2 separate regions of the Homo sapiens genome follow, and region 1 is linked to region 2. The links come from fine-mapping of genetic effects on gene expression. Tissue or cell type: breast. Region 2 holds a variant in brackets; the other region holds the start of a gene. All regions are shown on one strand. Distances are from middle to middle.

The links. PIP is the estimated chance that this variant, and not a neighbour inherited with it, causes the effect.
Region 1: it holds the start of WRN, and the variant in region 2 is fine-mapped to the expression of WRN in breast (GTEx, PIP above 0.99). The same link has a PIP of 0.9 or more in Th1 cells, activated naive CD4 T cells, adrenal gland, aorta, atrial appendage and blood mononuclear cells.

Annotation. Positions count from the first base shown.
Region 1 is chr8:31,032,068-31,034,911 of GRCh38, reverse strand. It overlaps WRN (WRN RecQ like helicase), which reads right to left and starts at 1,102. Exons shown (of 35, transcript NM_000553.6): 1 at 939-1,102. PURG (purine rich element binding protein G) reads left to right here and starts at 1,556. Exons shown (of 2, transcript NM_001323311.2): 1 at 1,556-1,834; 2 at 2,124-2,844. The coding sequence starts at 2,130. RefSeq lists silencers at 65-134, 1,105-1,364, 1,525-1,574 and an enhancer at 828-1,349.
Region 2 is chr8:31,118,707-31,121,206 of GRCh38, reverse strand. It overlaps WRN (WRN RecQ like helicase), which reads right to left. Exons shown (of 35, transcript NM_000553.6): 21 at 783-964. Among named protein-coding and RNA genes, the nearest start is that of WRN, 86 kb to the right of the region's middle. The variant A/G (reference allele first, on the strand shown) is at 1,331.

The DNA.
Region 1 (2,844 bases), 86 kb after region 2:
ACTGGAACCAAGAAGCCATAAAATGCCATATGCTGGACACGATAACTCATACCCTATGAGTTACAGTGTACAGCCAATCACTAAGCAATGGTATCTCTGTAAACCAATAACAATTCCTGACCAACTTTGTCTCAGCCCACTCTTCCCCTTCGCCTTTAAAAACCTGCTTGTAACCAAGGCTGAAGGAGCACTCCCCAAGGCAACTGGGAAATGAGTCCTGGGCAGCTGTCCTCATTTTGGCTGAAGTAAACACTTTAAATTATAATTTTGTGCCCCAGCCTCTTCCTTTTAGGTAGACACCACTATTCAATGACATCAAGATCTGAACTGTCCTACTTATCCCAATATCCCACCCCTAAAAAGAAATGTACCGAACCATAAAAAGCCTGAAGTACTCCGACTTACAGACTCCTGTATTAGCATCCTAAGAATTATATTACCCTCTTCAATAGGGAGTAGTATTTTTCATATCAAACCTAGCCTGAGAACAACTGAGATTCAACTAGGAAAAAAAGAAAAGAAAATCCATTAAAGACTGAGTGATTTGAACTCAAAAATATCCATCATCACTTGCTAAATCATAGACAGCAGGTTATTTCCCTCGACTTTGCTGTGCAGACCTGTAGTGGCTCAATTTCTGCCATAATAAAGGCCGTACTAGAAAGAGCAATCCTAACTAAGCGCGCAAGGTAAACATCAAGCTGGGGCCGTCAGGGGCGGGGAAACACTTTCTGAATGGCGGAAGCTCCGAGAGACGCCTTTCCCAGCTGCTCCAGAGGGGAAAGGAAAAGGGAGAAAGTCTGTTTTTCCAGAATCTCCCAAACACAGCCCAGGGGCCTGCTCCGCGGGCCTAAGCGCCTCCACGTGTCTCAGAAGCCTAGCACTATAGATACCCCGGGGCACGGAGCTGGGAAAACGGGAATAGGAAGACACTTTACCCCGAGAAGATCCAGTCCAACAGGTCTTCTTCAGCCGGATGACTGTGGAGCGCCACCACAAGCAGGGCCTGCAACCCAGGCATCCAGGCTAGACACCAAATCAGCAAACTTTATTCCCGCGCTGCCGAGTACAAGCCGGCGCCTCCCCGGCGCACACAGTACACATCAGCTCCGGGAGACCTACCCGACCCGCCCCTCCAGCGCCGTCCCCGCCCCCGTTCCTGCCCCACCCCTTTCCCCGCCCCCGGCCCGGCTCGCCTTTCTCGCGGCGCTGCAACCCTCCCACCACAGCCCATCCAGCCCCGCCCAGCGCGCCGCGGTGCGCATGCGTGGAGGCCCTCGCTGCCGCTGAGCACCTCGGGAAGTGTAGTCTCTTCGCAGGTGCGGCTGGGCAGCTAGAGTCCTGCATCCCGGTGGAATCCGGAGAAGTGAGAACATTCCCGCCGCCCGGTCCTCATTCCCATCTTCCCACCTGTCCAGTCCCCTCGCACTCCCGCTGCACCCCACGCGCCGGGCTTCAGTCAGAGAGTGCACTGAGGAAGAGCGGAGACCCCCTCTTCCCCTCAGCAGGCTGTGCCGGGGGAGGCGGGGTCCACCGCCCGCCCCCCGCCGTCGCTCTCCCCGCCTCCCCTTCCCTCCCCTCCTGGCGGGTGCGGGGCCGGTGTCCGAAGTCAGGCGGCGGCCCCCGCAGCGGCCGCAGGAGGGGCGGCTGCGGTGGGCGCCGCGGGCGATGCCCCTGCCCGGCTGCTCCGGCGGGGGGCAGTGCGAGCGGCGGCGGCGGGGGAGGAGGCGGGGGGCGGCGGCTGCGGCGGCTGCAGCAGAGGGGCCGAGAGCTGGCGGTGGCGGCGGCGGTGGTCGTGAAGGGCATCGGCGGCGGCGGTGATGGCAGAGATGATGTGAGTGCCCGCCGGCTGGAGACCTGGGGCCGCGGAGCGCGGGACGGGCGGCGGCGGCGTGCGGGAGCGGCCCCGGGGGCGGCGGAGGGATGCGGGGAGCGCGGGCAGAGCCGGAGCGGCGGCCGCCAACCGGCCGGCAGTGGCTGGAGCCCCGCGCTGCGGCGCCGGGGGAGCCGGGCCCGGCGTGGGGGTCGCGGGCGGCGGCGGGGCGGTCAGGCCGAGGGGCGTCTGCGATTGTTCTCAACACCCCTCCCCCACCCCATCCCGTGTGTCTGTTTGTTACTTGCAGCTGAAGATGGAAAGAGCCAGGCGAAGGGGAGGCGGCGGCGGCCGCGGCCGCGGAGGCAAGAATGTAGGGGGCTCTGGCCTAAGCAAGAGTAGACTCTATCCCCAGGCCCAGCACTCCCACTACCCCCACTACGCGGCCTCAGCCACCCCTAATCAGGCCGGGGGCGCAGCCGAAATCCAGGAGCTGGCCTCCAAACGAGTGGACATCCAGAAAAAGAGGTTTTACCTAGACGTGAAGCAAAGCTCCCGGGGCCGCTTCCTAAAGATAGCCGAAGTCTGGATAGGGAGAGGCCGGCAGGACAACATCAGAAAGAGTAAACTGACCCTCTCCCTGTCTGTGGCAGCGGAGCTGAAGGACTGTCTAGGGGACTTCATCGAGCACTATGCCCACCTGGGCCTGAAAGGCCACCGGCAAGAGCATGGCCACAGCAAAGAGCAAGGCTCCAGAAGGAGGCAGAAGCACTCGGCACCCTCCCCACCAGTCTCGGTGGGGTCCGAAGAGCATCCTCACAGTGTCCTGAAAACAGACTATATCGAGAGGGACAATAGGAAATATTACCTAGACCTAAAGGAAAATCAGCGGGGTCGCTTCCTACGGATTAGACAAACCATGATGCGGGGGACTGGCATGATAGGTTATTTTGGCCACAGTTTGGGCCAAGAACAGACTATTGTCCTCCCAGCACAAGGAATGATTGAGTTTCGTGATGCCTTGGTTCAGC
Region 2 (2,500 bases):
CCATTGGTTACCATGTATAGGTTTTTCTCCTGAGATTCTTTTTCCTACGGATGAAGGAACAAAGTATTGGTAAATGCTGCCCCAAAATCTTTGCAAGATAATGTTTTCCTTTACAACAAAAAATCTCATAGAACTTAAGTGCCAACAAACTACTTGTTGAGTACTTAAGTAGAAAGGTTCTCCTGCACTTAGATACTGAACACTTAATATTGACTTACGGCAGTCTGTCAGTACAGTGCAACACAATGATTCATACACAGTCAAGGAGAACTGGCATGGTCTCATGGAACTAACCAAGAAAACAAATAGTAACAAGAGTCAAATAGGGACTGAGAGAAATCCTCTGGAATAATCACCACTGTAGCATGGGAAGAAAGAATCAGTAACAAAATCAGTGGTAGTTGAAGTAACTATGGCTGAAGACATCGCAACTTGACAGGATCTGAGGAGAGGAAAAGAACCTGTTCATTAATGCACAATGGTAGGAAAGTATTCCATAGGATCTCTGTGACAGGCCCAAGTATTGTCCTGATTTAGTTAATTCCTCACACTAACTAAGGCATGCTGAAATTAGCTCATCTCCAAGTGGCAACTCTTACCACAAATGTTCTTCTTACATGTCCTCTGGATTTGGGGAGGTTTTATTTTTCTTTTTTTTTTTTTTTACTTTAAATGCACTCACAAATTACTTGGGATACTGGAAATAGCCTCAAACACTTTTGAGGTTTATATGGAAAGAAAGAAAGAAATCTGCAAGAGTAAAAACAATAAATTTTTTTTACCTATTTAAGTTAATGTCTGCAGGAGCCCAGAGGACGTGACAAGAACTTTGAAGTCCATCACGACCAGCTCTACCAATCTCCTGATAATATGATTCCATGTCCTTAGGAGCACCGTAATGAATGACTTGGCGAATGTCAGCTTTATTAATGCCCATTCCAAAAGCTATGGTAGCTATGACACACTGAGAACAAATCACAACACAGTTTGACAAACATATTTAGCAGAATGAAAACCTTACATTTATACCTTTTTGTAAGAATAATTTGTTCGTTAACTTAAGTCCCTGGCACAAAGTGGAATTCAATGTGATTTCAACCAATCATTTACAGATTATCTGCCTGATTTACAGATTAAGGACTGGTGACTAGAAATGGGATTTCTGTTCACTCTCTATAAAAAATAGTAAATAAAGTGGTCTATCTGAACTCCTATGAATACAAGACACAAAAGGGGTTCAAAATATTTATTGTGTTAAAGAAAACTTTTGCATTATAATGAAGTTTCAAGCGTCCTTACCTGATTGCAGAGTATTTTAACATTCTCTAAT[A/G]TTAATCTAAGATGGAAGCTTCTCATTAAAGATGGTGGGATGAAACATAATGCATTATCTCTGCATCTTTAAGAGGGTAAAATTGATAGAATGTCTCATATCTATGAATATACTGAGGTAAGTTTACACAATTGTGGGAAATTTTAGGGAAGAATTAGTGATAAGACATAGAAAATTTTTTTTTAGGTAATAACAATAAAAATACAAATAGATAAGAAAGAAAAATAGCCATAATATACTACATGGCTCAGAGATCATAAAAAGCATTTACAGAGTAATAATTATGTAAATCGTATACACTAATCTAGCCAAAATTATGACATAAACATATTAGGAGGAAAGGGGGTTAGAAATACATGGACAAGGTAAGAAAAAAGGGCAGTTAAGAATGTGAAAGAGAGCTAACCTTTCATCTTTCAGAGAGAAGAGTCGATAAATAATGCCTACGACTAATACACAAATAAACAAAAAATTAAGTAGGAGCCAGGTACATAAACTATGGCAAGATATAGTGGTAAAGTACCAAAAGAATCAGCTAAAAAGGTTGTGAATGGGAAACAGAAGTGGGAAAGACATGAGGCCTTGAAGTTTTTTACTGTAAGAACAGTAGACCTATCTGCATGCCATTTCATAAAGAAAGATTACATGCTAAGATGGACCAGGAATACGAAAGGAAGAGAAAAGAAGGAAAGAAGAAAAGAAAGGAGGGAGGAAAGGAGGAAAATGCTGAGTAAGTAAAAGAAAGTATGAGAAAGGTGAGAAAAAAGTAAATATAGGAATGAATATCATACTAAGTAAAAGCTCTGGCTGAATAAGACTCAGCAATTTTTTGATATATGTAAGAGTCAATAAGCAACACAATAATAATTCTAATTTTAATTATATGGTATTATTTTTAGGTGAGATCAACCTATTTTACAGACATGATTTTCAAACTATCCTTATAAACTCTCAGGTGTAAAGACATTTTATCAAATAATTTATTCACAACATCATTCCTAAAAAGAAAGGACTCAAGGCATCTTGAAAGGGGAAATGAAATACAAAAAGATACGAAACTAATAAAAGTGAGGATTAAAAGTAAAAATGAATGTTCAAGACTAAAAATGCCTATCTACATGCAAATGTGTTTGGATCTGGTTATAAAAATAAGAAAGAAAAGTATACTTT